4 separate regions of the Homo sapiens genome follow, and all the other regions are reported to be linked to region 2. The links are microRNA targets in miRTarBase. Many come from high-throughput screens and were not tested one by one. Region 2 holds a microRNA gene; each other region holds the end of a gene's coding sequence. Distances are between the middles of the regions.

Region 1 (4,054 bases), 140 Mb from region 2:
CCATTGCACTCTAGCCTGGGCAACAAGAGCAAAACTCCATCTCAAAAAAAAAAAAAAAAAAAAAAGGCAGAAATAGGAATCCAGATCTAAGAAATATGTAGCAATCAGAAAGAGGCAAGTCAAGGAGGAATAAAACAGACAAGACTTCAACACGGAGGCAGGGTGGGGAAAGCCCACAGTGCATCCACTTGGCTATGCTGCTATGAGATCTCAAGGTACCTCTCCAGAGCATCAACAAGGCAGGTCAGCAGTCATGAAGTGACCATAATGTTCCATATACAATACGAATAGGCAGACAAAGACTCTAAACACCAGAGCTGCAGTTATTTCAATTCAGGTTTTATTAAAGTTGTTTCTGAATATTTTTTCTCAGTGATCCTTGTTCTGATGAATATTACATTTCATCCTTAGTTTTGCTCATTTGATTTTGCTTTAGTGTTTAAAGAACTTTTATTTATCAAATCCTTTGCCATGAATGAGAGCACCAAATAACATATCAATACCCAACTGCCTGATTCCTTTACAGCAGTAAGAAAAGTCAGTAAAACATTTGTACAGTCCAAGTACTACAACACCAAGATCCCCTCTTCAAGTGAGAGTGAGCCAAAGCTTCCTTAGTATCATCTCAAGTCAATGTCTTTTCACTATACCATTAAGATGAAAATAACTAAGAGCACTGACACAATTTTCTTGCTCTTTCCATCTAAAAATGTGGGTTTCCTGTGGTGTGGCTAATTTTAAAAACCAGAAAATGGAAGGAAAATAAGTCAGTGAATGATTAGCTTACAAGTTTTTTCTACTCATCATTAACCAGTCTTCCCTTTTCCCTAGACTTTAGACAGCCATAAAAAGGCAGGAAAAACAATGTGCATAATAAAAAAATAAAAATAAATATCTGAGCACCTACTGTAGTAGGCATTTAACACATTTCACTTAATCCTCACAACGCTGTGAAAGAATTATTATAATCATTTTACGAATAAAGAAACAGGCTCAGAAGGGTGAAATCACTGGTGCCTAAAGTCCTGCAGGTGACTGAGCTGAGATTTAAGTTCAAGCCTATGCTCTAATATGCTGCTTTGGCTCCCCAAAGCCCTTCAGCTTGAGATTCTTACTACTATAGCTTCATCTTCTAATTCTAAATTTACACTTTTAAGTCTGCAAAACTACTGAATAACAAAAGAACCTAAAATTATTCTGAATTTACTTGCCAAAACGGGAGGTGTAATAGACCATTAGAAAATTCTTCTAGCCTGGACAATATAGTGAGACCCCGCCTGTAAAAAACAACCAACCAACCAAAAAAAAAAAACCAAAAACCAAAAACCAAAAACCAAAAAACAAAACTAGCCAGTCATGGTGGTGCACTTGCCTGTGGTCCTGGCTACTTGGTAGGCTGAGGTGGGAGGATCACTTGAGCTCATTAGGTAGAGACATCTCTTTAGGTAATCATAACATTCCATACCTAAAATTATTGTTAATTGTAATTAATGTTAATTCTAACTGGTAATGATAGCTAGCAATAAAAAAACACACAGAGAGTAATTACAATCAGCTCATTTTCTTATTGTCACCATCTGTCAAATCTCACAGAATGGAAGGCAAAAAAAGACAACTTCCTATTGTGAACCTTGATTGTTCATTAAATTTACAATATATACTTAGTGGAATGCCAAAAGATGTTCTGGTTTTACAAGCTTAACCACCAGTCTTTTGATTGCATTTTAAAAGTGCATATTTACTTGTTTTTTAAGGGTCTAAATCTGATGAAGATGGTAAGGCCCACAAGGAGATGGCTTTATTGATAAGTTTGTGTGCTGTCTTAGAATTATCTATAATGTATAAGAGGTTAACTTTCCACCACTCCACTGAATGTCATAGAGTTCCAGTGGAAAATGAATTTTATTTTATTTTATAACTTCAACCTAAACCTATATAATCTAGACATCCAACAACATCTGATTGTCTGCTGGAGACTTCATTGCATGCCCATTAATCTTAAATGGAGACTTAATTGCATGCCCATTAATCTTAAATGATTGACATTAATATCTAGTTGTTCTTCATTCATACTCTCACTGGAATTTAGTCAATAGTTTAGAGATTATTTTCCTTGTGTCCAGTCCTAAAAAGACTAGATTTTCATACTTCAGAAGCAGAAAGGGTGAGATTTGATCATTAAGGCCTCTTCCAACATTAAAATATCCATAATTGACTGCCTTCCTAAAATCTGACTGATGTATCATTCATTAAGTCGTTTATTGGACAAATCTTTTACAGAACACCAGCTATAAGACTGAAAAAAAACCACATAGGCCCATTAATTCTAGAGGTTAATATATAAAAGGTGAGCTCAATGTTTACACAGATGTGACTTAACAGATACAAAGAATAGGAAATAGAGCTTGTCAATATAACAGAGGTAGTGATTTGTGAGTACCAACTTAAAAAAAAAAACAACAAAAAAACTTTGCGGGCGCAGTGGTGAACGCCTGTAGTCCTAGCTACTTGGCAGGCTGAGGCAGGATTGCTTGGGCCCAGGAGTTGGAGGTCAGCCTGGGCAACACAGGAAAAAAAAAAAAAATTGCCAAGAGGAGAGAATACTTATGTTAAGTGTTCTTATCGCAAAAAGTAACATAAATAGAGCCAGAGGAAACTTAAAAAAAAATTCAGCATTAACTATTAATAAATGAAATGAGAAATCATGGGAACCTAACACTTTTGTCCTGATCACCACCTCCCATCATTTAATAAAGGATTATAAGGTAAAATTGACAAAAGGGCAGAGGAGTAAAGGCTGGTGGAATAAGTTGTAGGTAAATTACCCAAATAGAGCCATCTGGGTCATTAGCTGTTAGTGTTGCCTCAGTTTGCCTGAAATGATTATATGACAAGGAGGCTGAAAATAATTTGAAGAGCAAAGACAGCACAAGGCTTTTTGGCCATTCTTGCTTGAAAGGGTCCTGGGTATCTCAAATTTCGATGCTCCTTGCCTTCCAAGTCTCATCTAGACCTTTAGCCCCTGCAAATGGGGATGAGAAAGGGGTGGGTATGGGACAATGATGTGAGCATAAAGCCTATCTAGTTGGGATTACAAGAACAAAAGATGGCTAAAAGGAAAAAAACAAAACAAAAGGTAAAGTCCTGAAAATCTATGTGTATAAAAATCAATCCAAATGATCTAAATTTATACGACCACGAAGCTTTATCCTCTAAGTACCCAAATGTTGAACCAATCCCTACCATCTCCTTTTTCCACAAAATACAAGATACTACACAATTCCTGTTATAGAGACCGCTAGGAAGAAACATGTAGTTGAAAACCCATAGTTAAAAGGATTTTGGATTCAAATTTATCACAGTACCAATTTTCCTAAACATGTTTTGATAAAGGCCATTGGAACACCTGTCACACTGTTCAAATGCCCAATGGTAAGACTTCTGATGAGACCAAACAGGTCACATTAAATCAATAGAATATCTTAGAAATAAAGCCAATATGACTAAATCCAAAACATATCACATGAAGTACCTCATGTACAATACAAACCTAGTTTAATAAATAAAAGAAACATAGGTGACTGCGCTCTGGGAGAACATCCAGTTCCTGATGGCCTCTTCACAGTCTTCTCTGAGACTCCACTGCCACTTCCACTCGGGCAAGCCTAATGGTGCGGCCATGAAGTTTGTAGCCATCTTGTCTTACTAATGCCACGGTGCCAGGCTGCACCCCAACACCAGCTGGCACATGACAGATGAGTTCATGCTCATGGGGGTCATATTTGTCACCAATGGGTGTCAGTTTCTCCAGGCCATGCTTGGCAAACACACTTTTCAGCTTTGCTTCTAAAAGCAACAACCCTCGGAAGACCTTCTCCAGAGTGAGCTTTTGGTCCTCAGGCTCCGATTCTTCAGAAATGCACTCTGTAGTCTTCTCCAAAATGTCAGCCACCTCCACCAAGTCCTTACAGAAACTCTGGATTCCTGCAGAGAAGCCAGTTATTTTTATTGTTTGTGAGGAAATCACTCTGCCCGTGGGCATAGAGTTTGGGTA
Region 2 (4,067 bases):
AAAAAATATTTCTGCTAAATACTTTATATTCATCATCATAAAAAATGCACAGCCATTTGAAAAAAGGGCAATTACCCTAAATGAATATTGCCAAAGCACAGATCAACTTTATATAGGATTTCTTTCCTTGTTTCTGAAAAATCGCAAACAGAACTGGCAGACTTTATTTAACAAACATTGATTTTGTCCAGGCATGGAGTTTAAATTTTAGTGCATGTGCTGGAGGCAGGGAGAAGTGATGCGAGAAAGTAAAGCAACGACAGGTCATGCGGGGACCAGTGCTACAAAGAAACTAAAGCCAGGGGAAGGGTTGGGGAGGCATGGAGTGGGGTAGGACTACTAAATTTAGACAGAATGGGGTGCTAGAAAAGGTTGACTATGCTGTGGTAACAAATTAGCCCCTGAACCCCAGCGGTGTAGCATAAGTTTATCTCTTACCCACATTCTACGTCCACCACAGGTCACCAGTGGCTGTGCTCTAGTCATTCAGGGACACAGCTGGATGGAGGCTGCACCATCTGAGACACGGGGCACCTCCCTAGTCCTGCCAGAGCCGCAGTAGCAGTGGACCAGAGCTGGAAAGTCACACATGGAGCCTTAAAGTCTTTAAGCAATAAGCCACAACTAGTACCATGGCCCCACCTACTGCAAGAGGGCTGAGAAATGGGAGGAGTTCATAGCATGAGCAATCAATAACTGTCACTGATATCCAGGGAAGTCGTCTCTGACACAGGGAAATCTAAGCAAAGACCAACTAAAGAAAGAAGCTACACAGAAAGTTGGAGACAGGATGATGTCATTTATGATTCCAAGAAATATTCTGTTTGTCTGCCATTTGTTTCCAGTGAACAACCACATCAAATCTTTAATTTAGATATTTTGATAATTAAATGCATTAAAAATCTGTCTCTATTTCTATGCTTAGTTCAAGTAATAGCTTACCTCAGTGATTTTAACAGTCTTACATACCATATAGTATCACTGCCCTTACATTACATCCTTCAATAATTATCCCCTCCCGAGTAAAATCATAATACAAGGGCTGACAAACTCATTCTTGATTGACACACATCTCGACTCCTCACTCATTTCTTCTCCACATATTATTATTTTCTCATTACTTACCTAAAATTTAACCTTATAGATAATGAAAAGGGTTCTGAACATTAAGAAATAATAGAATAGTTATAAATGGAGGAAAAAGTTTGAATAAAAAAGTTTCTTAAAAGGATAGTGTCACTTGCAAAAATAGCTCTTTGAAATACAGGTTCCTATAAACATTTTACACGCATTAAGATATTACTCTTACACATACTGGTAACACAGACACTATACATATTTGTCTCCATTTTAGGAAGAAATGAAGCAAGGCTATTTTTAATAATAAACTTAGAAACAATTCATAACCCCTAGTATTTGCATTAACCTGCAAATACTAGGCAGCACACCACAGCAGAGTGTAACTAAAACCTAAAATAGTGTTTCACTTTCTTCCACACCTACCTCTGTGCGCTCATGCAAGTGTTTTTATTTTGCTTTGCATTAGATGCTTCTGTAATACAGGCATCTGATTCACCCCACATAAAGCTGTTGTAAGTAATCAATGTGAGAAAGTCTACTTATTGTTAAGCATATTTGTATATTTTTTACTAGTTATTTCATACTTGCCCTGAAAGAATACACATTCAAAAAGCTTGAAATTAGGCAATGTCAGTCTCATCAAACAAAACCAGCATTGGAAGCGAATATTAACAAATATCAGAATGAAATTACAAAATATACATCTCCAGCCTCATAAAACATGAATTTTATAAGCACTTTCATAAACATAAGAAAAATAGCTTTGACAATAACTATTTGAAAACATTATTATTAATAATCTTGTATACTGTACATGTGCACTTAAATGTAATAGCACCAACATTCATTATATTATGAAGGGGATACTTTATAAGAATTATAAATTATTTTTACATGATTAAATAATTTTGGCAGAGTAAGTCCGCAGGACTTAAATAACCAGTCAGCCTTAGTATCTACATCTGGACCAGGAAGCCTTTGTGTTACAGACACAGATTCCCTGTGAAGTTCTCCAGGGTGTAAAGAAGGCCCCAGGGAGGTGCCGACGGGATGTGAGGGCTGCCTTTCAGCTCAGGCGAGCCTGCAAGCAACAGGGCAGTTTGGGAAGGGTCACAGGCACAGGAAGGGAGCAGTGGGCAACCATTGATTACATCAAACCAGGATGGTTTCTTCTTTTTAAAGAAACTTTTGTTGAGTGTTTACCCACCCCCATCCACACAAATATGCTCTCTAGGAAATGTGAAAGTATAAGCTTCAGAAAAATGTTTTTCTCATCCTTTAATTTCTGGTTTTATGATCAAATGTTCCGAAGACACTGCTTCTTTTTGCTCAAAATAGTTGACATTGTCATTGCTTCTAGTTTTTCAGCTCCTACTATGCTTACTATGTCCATGGGTGCCATTGACGTCTTTGGCTATTTATCATCTCTAGAAAAGAAAAAAAAACATTAAAATTTTAGGATGTAGGATTCACAATAAATCTCTTACCAAATCCTCCTTAAATCCCTAAACTCTCTACCTGGCTCTGACTCCAGGATCACCCTTTCAGTTCTTTCCATGTTTTTCTTCGGAAAATGTAGTTTCCTAACCTTTCTACCCACCCTTCTCGTCTACTCTTAGGTCTGCAGCCACAGTGATAGTTCTAAGTTGCAAACCTGATCATGTCCTTCCAGTACTTAGTCTTTCAAAAATCTTCCTACTTCCCGCAGAGTGAAGCCTGAACTCTTTAATAGGCATCTAAGGACTTGGACCCGGATCCTGTTAACCTGTTAATTCATCTTTGCCTCTAACTCCCTCCCTTCATCTTTCAAGGCACAGCGCAGGACTTAACTCATTGTGAAAGTACTAAGCCTTGATGTATCTTTAGGAAAAACACACGTATACACACACACGCATGCAAAGAGAGGAAGCATAGCTTAGTGGTTAACCTACATAGACTGCAACTTGCTTAAATAATCCAGTATTTATCTATGTTTTAATAAAATTGTTTTAATAAAAATATATGAAATTCATCTATCTTTTCTCTGGAATGCTTTTGCCTGTTCAAAGATTATACAATGCTCCCGTATGTTACAGAGGAAGCCGTCCCTTCATTTATAAAAGACAGTTAACACATAGCACAAAAACTCTAGAGTAGGATGGATCCGCAACTACTGTACTGGAAATATGCTAAATTAGGGTTCTGATTAGAGTTAATGGAATTAACTTGGGTGAGAGAAAATACTCACCATTAATCTAGGGGTAACAGAGGAGTTAAACTCCAATTCAGAAACAGAGCAGTTCAAAATCAGAATCTAGAGTCAGCCTACATGGGCTTGATCTGGGAATGTGCCCTTTATTAGACGTGTAACCTTGGGCTGCTGCTTGACTGAATAGGTCTTCGATTCCTCATGGAATGAATATAATAAGATCTGATGAATGCAATTAGACAGTGCCTGAAACAGTAGTCTTAAGTAGGTATTTTTGTTGTCCCACTTTTTGAGAAACAAAACCAAAGTCAATTCAATTAAAACTGCAGGTTTCTTGATTTCATCCTAATACTTTGCAAATTAATCACAGAACCCAAGTGAAATTGCCTAGACTCTCAAAGAGTTCGAAAAACATTTCTAATACACTCAAAATTTTCCTAGTTGACGTTCACAGATTATCAAGAGTAAAGCACCTTCATACAGTTTTGATCCTCACACTGTCTAAATCTGAGGAGCTGTCAGGAAAGACATGTAAGGAGAGATCTAAGCTAAAACTCAAACCACACATGAGGCTTTTCAACTGTGACCAACTTGTAGTTAAAATTCAGTTTATGCTTTTCTGTCCACCTAAGAGCAAATTAAACCTTTAAGAAAGCAAAGGATAAAATCATTGTTAGCTCAAGCATTAAAAAAGAAAATAACTGAATATATCTTCTTCAACTCTCCACCCCTAGGGATGAGAACTGCACCTGGCAAACAAGAGGACATTCAACACGTAGTAGCTGTTAAAATGAGTAAC
Region 3 (4,054 bases), not on the chromosome of region 2:
CCAAGCCCGAAAAGGCGCAGGCCATGGCCCTGCTGCTCTACCAGACGTCGGCCAACGCGCTGGCGGAATTTAAACGCCTCAAGCGGCGGGACGACGCGCGTCACCAGCAGCAGGAGCTGGTGGGCGCACACACCATCCCGCTAGTGCCGCTGCGCAAGCTGCTCCTACACGGACCCTGCTGCTATAAACCGCCGGTGGAGCGCAGCCGCAGCGCGCCCAAGCTTGGCTCCATCACCGAGGACCTGCTCGGCGAACAGCTGGAGCAGGAGCTGCAGGAGGAAGAGGAAGAGGAGCAACCCGAGGGCTGCCCGGAGGAGGAGGAGAACCGTGCGGCAGAGGGAGATCCAGCAGAGGAGGAGGCCGAGGCGCAGCGTGCGCTAGTGGTCGCCATGCACTTTGAGTGCGGGGACTTGTTGGATACTCTGGAGAATGGCCGTGGGGAGGCGCTAGGAGGCGGCGGGGGCTCCCTGGGCCCGGGGGCCGGGCCGCCGCCTCTGCTGCTGGGCAGCGCCTCCGACATGAAGGCTGAGCTGTCGCAACTTATTAGCGACCTGGGCGAGCTCAGCTTCGGCAACGACGTGCGCACCCTGCAGGCCGACTTGCGGGTGACGCGCCTGCTGTCAGGCGACAGCACGGGCAGCGAGAGCTCCATCGAGGGCGGGGGCCCTGACGCCACCTCCGCCACCGCCGGGGACTCGTCCCGCCAGGCCGACGGCGCCAGTGCAGACGAGCCCCACTCGGGCTGAGCTCCTCCGCGCGTCGCCGGCGCTCCACCGTGGCTACCCATCCGTGGTCCCGACAACCTCCCTGTCCCTTGCCCGCCCCCAGGAAGGGGGAAATGGGGCATTTGGGGCCCAGACCTACACTTGGAGCCCAGGTCCAGCGTTCCCCCGACCGCTTTCCCCTACCTCCCGGCCCCCGCTCCCGCCCCAGCACTTTTGGCTCTGTTGCGCGTGGGGATGCGGGGAGATTTGAGAGGGGAAAACCCCGCCAGGAGGGAGAGAGAGGCACCCCTCTGGGATGCGGGTGAGGGAAGGTTGGCTGAAGTTCCTAGTCTCAGGCCGTAGGTGCCTGGCCAGTTTCCTGTTTGTGGGGCAGCTGGGGCCTGAGGAGGAGGGGTTCACTTCCTCCTCCCACCCCCTGGGAGCGGCCCTGCGCTGTCACTGACATCTCATTAAAAAAAAAAAAAAATTTGCTCTCAAGGTGTTTGAGGCTTTAATGCAACCCTTTAGCCCTTGGTTCTTTTTGGTGCAAGAATTCTGGCTGTTTACCTCAGACTCAGACCCCTGAAATGTTGCCAAATTCTTCAAATAACTGTTTGGGGGGTGGGGGGAGATGAAAGAGAGTCGCGTTTTGTTTACAGTTAAAGACATCCAATATCTTAAAAAGGAGTTTTCCTTTAGAAACACACACACCCTTCCTCTTGCTCAAAAGATCTCACTCCATGATACTGTGTAAAATATTTTTGCACTGTTGTGAAGTATTTTTGACTTTTTTCTGTACATAACTGTGTTCTCAGAGCTGAATGTTTATATCTTTTGCTGTGCAAAAGAAACATGTAAAATGTTGTTCAGTTGTATATACAGAAATGTGTATAAAACATTTTGTTATTTTTTAAAAGTAGCACTGTTCTGGTTCTGTTTGCACGCCAGTGGGGAGAGAATAAAGAGGAAAATTTAACAGAACAGGTGAGCGTCTGGAACTGCTGCGTTGGGGTGGGAGAGGCTGTGTCTGACCCTGGGATGGTGTCATAAGACAGTCTTTGGCCTTTCCTGTGCTTGGAGAGAATTAGGGAAGGAAGGTCCACTTTATGCGCCATCTGGGGCCTTCCTGGACCTCCACAACTCTGGGTGCTGTGTCTGGGACCAGCCTTTTCTTGTATTATCCTGTATTTTTCAGTAATTAAGTTGTGTGATCTTTTTCTGGTCTTTTGGAGAGGCCACGGTGAGTTCCATATCGCACTCCCAGACCTGTGAGGTTATTTATGGAGGAGTGACTTCCAGATCTGCTGAGATTTTACTACCTCCTTCTGTGGGCCATGCTAATAATCAAGCGTAAGGAGACTACCTTATCTTTTCCTTTACAAACAGCTCAGGGAGCTTTAAAGATGAACTAGAAACCCAAAGAGGAGTTCTCTGAGGAGTGGGGCCATCTCTGTTTTTCCTGGGAGGAAAACCAAGGAGAGAAAAGTTGACAAGTTCCGATCCTGGTGTGAGTGAGTCACGGTGCAGGTGGGTGGGTGGCTGGGCAGGCTGCAGAGCCCATTTCCTTCCCTTCTACAACCCAGTGTGACCCAGTTGGGGGATGGCGCGAAGGTCGAGGGGGAGAGGAGCTGTTAGAGCGCGGTATGGGTGTGCATGTTTCAGCGCTTTCATGCTTTCTGTGTGTTTGTTTCTGTTGTAAACTCCAAACAGATGTCTCTAGTTTGGCTACACCCGATCAGCTGGAAGTTGTAATAAGATGCTGCCAAAACTGTGCCTTCTGCAAATTATATTTTCCTTTTGCCCCTTGAGGCCTCTCTTCCTGTGTTGCAGAAATGGATCTCACTCCTGGCCTTCCCTGGTGTCCTGAGGCCACTTTGCTTTGTTTTCATCATAAATATGTTCTGAGCAGCTAGACCCAGAAATCCTAAGGAGTCTGGAATTCACTGGAACCATAGAGGAAAGAGGGGTGAAAGATTTTCTTCCTAATTAACAGGAATGGTTCAGGCATAGAACTATCTTTAAAAAAGAAAAGCAAAGGGGGCGAGTGGAAAATATGTGTGTGTGTGTGTGTGTGTGTGTGTGTGTGTATATATATATATATTTTTTTTTTTTTTTTGAGACGGAGTTTCACTCTTGTCACCCAGGCTGGAGTGCAATGGTGCAATCTCAGCTCACCGCAACCTCCACCTCCCGGGTTCAAGCGATTCTCCTGCCTCAGCCTCCCAAGTAGCTGGGATTACAGGCATGCGCCACCACGCCGGGCTAATTTTGTATTTTTAGTAGAGATGGGGTTTCTCCATGTTGGTCAGGCTGGTTTCAAACTCCCGACCTCAGGTGATCTGCCCACCTTAGCCTACCAAAGTGCTGGCATTACAGGCGTGAGCCACTGTACCCAGCTGAGTGGAAAACATTTAAAAAAAATTCAGTCTTAAGGGCCTTAGGACGTCCAGGCCTTTGAATCTATTATATTTTGGCTTGGTTGTGCGTCCCGATCCCTCTCCCTGAATACCTCAGATACACATCATTGAATGACATTAAAAACCCCAGCTAGAGAGAGGTCAGGAAAGTCCAGTCTCAGCCCAGCCACCCATCCCAGCCCTTCCACACCAGTGTGCTCACCTGATAAGCAGACGGCTGTGTGGGCCATCACTAGCCTGCGTGACTAGATTTCACATTTGAAATTATTCCCATGCATAGCCAAGTTCCTCTGCTGTTTGAAACTGATGAAGAGATGAGACAGAGTGAAGATAATATGGCTAATACTTGGGAGACAGGGCAGGGTCTGTGTGTCTTCATTCTTATCTAGTTTAAGTGTCCTGTGAGAATGCCAATGTTGGCTTTCATCTGTGACTGACAGGCATGTGGTGGTTGGTCCAAAAGTTCAGGCAAATAGTGTTGAAACCAACACCATCAATAAATATAAAGCAGCCATCTCTTTAAAGTCTGATATTTCCTCTCATGTGATTTATAAATAGGAAGGGGGGCTTGAAGGTTGAGGAGGAGGAAGAAGAAAATAAGCAGGCTGGAAAGAGCCAGCTCCCTTCCTCCTCCGTCTGTGCCCTCCCCATCTCTCCTTCCTCCCCTCTGCTTTTTGGCATCGATCCCCACTGCACCTCAGAGCTCTGACTGATGTAATTCTAGAAGAGATGTGAAGGTGACACGTGATTCACCTCTTCTGACTTCTCAGTCTTCCAGGGATGATATCACTAGAGTAAGAAGAGATGTTTTGAATGAAAATAAAAGAAAGACCCTAAAACTACTTTGCTCCTGGAGCTCAGAGGGAAAAGAATGGAGCGACAAAAGCAAAGCTAAGTCATTAGATAAAATACACCTTCCAGAAAACACCTGAA
Region 4 (4,054 bases), not on the chromosome of region 2:
TACCGTAGACTGTGGGGGGTCAGGCTGCCTGAATATTTCATAAAGTTATCAAACACATTTGCAGAATCCAAAGAGCTTTTGTATGAGCTAGAATACTGTCATTCCATCTGACAGACCACATTAGAATATTTGATAGGTTAAAAAAATGGAAGTGGTACAAACTAAGAAAATGCTAAAGTTCTGTTCATTTAGAACAGACTTAAGAGAGGAACCTAACAGTACAGCTCCACACTGAACTGTTTTCTCTTATTCTTACTAATGGTATCTAAGCTTTGGTTTACTCATTAGTTCAGTATGTTAATGCTAAAGTTAGTAATCCCTTAGACTTTAGTTTCCAGCTTTAACTTTTAAGACTAATTGTTTTTATTGTGCATATGTAAAATGGGATGCCTGTGAATTTAAAAAATTATTTTCATTTCTAAAAACATTAATAATCAACACGGTGATCAATACTGGGACAGAATACAGTGGGATTTTAAAAAAAAACACAATAATATTGAAACACTTCTAATGATAAGAGTGACTTCCAATAAAATCTAACATAACTTTATAAGGGGCCATTCCAGTTCTTAAAACTCTAATTAGACATAAAGCAAAATATTATTTAAAATTCCATTTTCTGACAGGATCAGAGTAAAAAAATCACTATGTGTCCTTGAGAACAGAAATAATAAAGTGACAGTTAAATATTACTATCAACAAAAAAATCTAGCTTTTACTATTTTTATAGATTTATCACTTATTTAAGTTAAAAATTAGTAAGAAGACTTGAAAAAGGCAATTTCTAGATTTATAGTAACTGTTCTATAATACAGCTTCAAAATAAGAACATGTACTTACATAAATATACTTAGCATACAGTTCTTTAAAGAATGTTGAAATGTTAATAGTGAGATCAATCAATGACAAGAAACTGTATCTTCCTCAGGAAAAAGAAACTAACCACTATACAATAAAGGCAATGACTGGAAACCCTAAATTACGTTTTGTTGTCAACAAAGTCAATTTAATTTAATAATTTAACTTTTCCACAGAATTAATCACTATTACTTCCATACCAAAGAGGTATCGGGGAAAGAGTAGATCTATGAGGATTTAAAATTATTTCCTATCTACTTCTTACTTTTAAGTTGTGGTGATTCATGGCTGTGATAAAGATTGTAATTTTCAAGAAACATACAAAAAATCCATGTTAAATAACAACAGTGGACCTTGAAGGCATGAGCTTTTGTCACTTTATTGTTAACCAATGAATATTATCCAAAATTAGAGATGTAATTGTAACTTAATTGTACAACACAAAATTATGCTAATGGTAAAAGCCTACTGGGATTTACCAAATACTCATTAGTGTATTTTTACATTGACTATATGAACATGTGCTCGCGACTGCTAATAAGTTATAATTGGTTTAATCTCTAAGAAATCCATATTGCAAATGGTTCTTGTTTAGAAAAATTCACACAGCCTTAAAAATGGATTAAATCCATTTTAATCCTAATCTACAAATAGATCATAAACAGCAAAATATAACTGATAATTTTTCAATACTGTATCAAACTGATGTAGCTATGGTAGTGCACATAATTCAAAATGAGGAAAATTAACAAAAATCCAATGAAAGTTCAGGTTTTTATCTATTATGCAATTGCTTTAAAGTGAACATTTATGTCTCAAAACATGAATAGTAGGGTCCACCATCCATTCCTTTGATGTACTGCAAGTAGGAATATTCTCTTCCATAGGATTCTGAAGCATGTGCACAACCATGGTACAACAGTCACTTCAAGGTTAACCAGCTATGTTTTGTCCTACAAAGTTCAAAAAATATATTAAACGCAACCTTTCTTTTACATAATGTCTGCCCAGATTAATCCTTTTAAAGTCAGCAAAATCAAAAAAGCACAAGAGATATTTTCAGACACAACTTGAATCTACTGTGCATGAAAATGTTTAATAAAATGGCAATTTTAATAGATAAATGTAAATTTGACTGTGTAATACCAAATGGAAAGTAGCTGAACCACACAGAGAAAACAAGGCTTTACGTATCTCCAAATTTAGCTGTTTTACAATAAACAAAGTATTAGAACATGTGAATATTAGAACCTCCTTCTAACTGGAAAGATTTCTTCAGTAAGCTATAACCGAAATTAATATAAACTAAAATTATAATTTCTAAAATAAGAATTAACAAACCAAATTTAAGTATTTTTAGTCAGAGATTGAAACAAAATAAGCACAGTGATCTAGAAACCAAATATACTGATTATGTAACTATCGTATCAAGGTACAGACATTCTTCACATGCTACAAGGTTAGCATTTCTCTCTCTCATACACACACAGAGTACACACACACACACACACACACACACACACAGTCTCTCTCTCATTCTCTCTCTCTCTTGCTCAGCCATACAACACCCCTCCAGGATGATAGTATACCAGTGAGGAGCTTACAATTTTAATACAAATCAGAATCCCACAGTTTGACTCGACAAAAAGGCAGTTAAAAATTTAGCACTCTTAAGATATTCTGAAGGAAAATGAAATTTCGAAAGTATTTCTTGATGATCGAGGCTATGGTTATGAATTATAAAACATATACCTTACACACTCCATTGTGTTTGAACAACCAGTCATCACAGATGTAGTAGTGAGGTAGTATTGTTGTCCCCTCCTCGGGACTGATGTTTTTATATGCTGCCCTTCCAGAAAAGGTCCAGGTTTTAAAAAATAACATTAGTTACCAACAAATGTATATTTTCTTTTTTTAACTAATCATTTGTTTTTCTAAATCAGTCTATAAAAGAACAAAACTTTTAAAATCTTGCAGAGGCTGTTTCATCAGTAAACTCTCCTAGGGAGCTACTACTGCTGTCTAAACCTCTGTGAAATGGTAGGCAAAAAAAGCCATCAAAGGATCACAGGAGATAAAACACCAATCAGTGTAAGCTGTTAAAGATGACTGTGATTAAATAACCAAATATCAAATATCCAATAAGGTAATTAAATTTAGATTAAAAAAAAACTAAGCACCAGCTGTACATACATTATTAAATGTTCTAATCTCTTTCCTGATTCATAGCCATATTCTACATGATGATCAAAGACTGTCCACTGTGCTACCTACCATCATTTTAAACACTGCCTGATCTGTATGATGGTGGAATTATGGCTATGGACATGGCAGATAAGAGAAGGGCACACTGAGAAAATGTGAGTGAGAGAGAATGTGGAAATAGGTTAAATATGGAAAGGGCAAGGGAAACCCATTAAAATGTTCACCATTATCCTTTAAAATGTACACAGAACTGAAACCACACATACACATTTGTCAGACGTGATAATTAGTGTTAATCTTCAACAGAAAAAAAAAAGAAAAAGAAAAAAAATGTGAAAAGAGGCAATGGAACACCATTCTCCATTCCCTGGACCAAAAGAAAAAAGAAAACCAAGCATGATATCATACTGCCTTAATGTTGAAGAGCTCCCCTTAAATTTGTCTTTTAGCTAGCACAGTCAAACTGGTGTAAGTGCTTTGGCAAGGTGGGATGCATTCCATCATATCTGCAAAGGCCTGCTTTTCTCTGTTGGTGGTTCAGCTTATGAAGAACATATATGCAAAATAACAGCTCTCACATTGCTTCAAACTCATCGATACGCTGCTTTGTATTGCCTTGTCGAATCTGTCGCAGAGTCTTGTACTTATCACGGCCTGCTTTAACATTCTCAGCATGAAGAACATCATTTTGTGTTTTCTTGGTTTCATCTCTGGCTTGGGCTAATTCTGAACTTAATGCCTATTTAAAAAATAAAAAGTACAACTATTATTTTTTTCTTAGATTTAAAAAAATTTATGAAAATGGCTTTAAGATGCAAAAATACATATACCAAATCATTTCCACTGTGAAACCTTTTTCTTTAGGTATAAGTTTGTTTTAGTAATAGTGGTGGCAGTGGTAAGGGAGGAATACACATGGCCTTTCCACATTTATCAACCATGGTATTTTGTACATTATTCTAAATTTCCTTAACTTTCTAATCTAATA

The links. The annotated mature microRNA hsa-miR-4458 reads AGAGGUAGGUGUGGAAGAA and lies in region 2 at 1,489-1,507, opposite strand. An mRNA with a match to its seed (bases 2 to 7 or 8) in the 3' UTR can be bound and repressed. Matches are read on the target gene's strand: a 7mer-m8 pairs with bases 2 to 8, a 7mer-A1 pairs with bases 2 to 7 and ends in A, and an 8mer does both.
Region 1: the mRNA of GRPEL2 is a reported target of hsa-miR-4458. Seed matches in the 3' UTR shown: 7mer-m8 at 2,420-2,426.
Region 3: the mRNA of FAM43A is a reported target of hsa-miR-4458. Seed matches in the 3' UTR shown: 7mer-m8 at 905-911 and 7mer-A1 at 1,269-1,275.
Region 4: the mRNA of RDX is a reported target of hsa-miR-4458. Seed matches in the 3' UTR shown: 8mer at 2,660-2,667.

Annotation. Positions count from the first base shown.
Region 1 is chr5:149,350,848-149,354,901 of GRCh38, reverse strand. It overlaps GRPEL2 (GrpE like 2, mitochondrial), which reads right to left. Exons shown (of 4, transcript NM_152407.4): 4 at 319-3,984. The coding sequence ends at 3,620. The region is part of intron 1 of GRPEL2-AS1 (GRPEL2 antisense RNA 1); the gene reads left to right. Among named protein-coding and RNA genes, the nearest start is that of GRPEL2-AS1, 4.8 kb to the left of the region's middle.
Region 2 is chr5:8,458,373-8,462,439 of GRCh38, reverse strand. It overlaps MIR4458 (microRNA 4458), which reads right to left and starts at 1,515; the gene lies at 1,441-1,515. MIR4458HG (MIR4458 host gene) reads right to left here. Exons shown (of 2, transcript NR_039989.1): 2 at 1-2,507.
Region 3 is chr3:194,687,353-194,691,406 of GRCh38, forward strand. It overlaps FAM43A (family with sequence similarity 43 member A), which reads left to right. Exons shown (of 1, transcript NM_153690.5): 1 at 1-1,685. The coding sequence ends at 746. Among named protein-coding and RNA genes, the nearest start is that of FAM43A, 3.5 kb to the left of the region's middle. RefSeq lists enhancers at 1-381, 2,228-2,347 and a silencer at 381-680.
Region 4 is chr11:110,228,229-110,232,282 of GRCh38, forward strand. RDX (radixin) reads right to left here. Exons shown (of 14, transcript NM_002906.4): 14 at 1,213-3,805. The coding sequence ends at 3,641. Among named protein-coding and RNA genes, the nearest start is that of RDX, 66 kb to the right of the region's middle.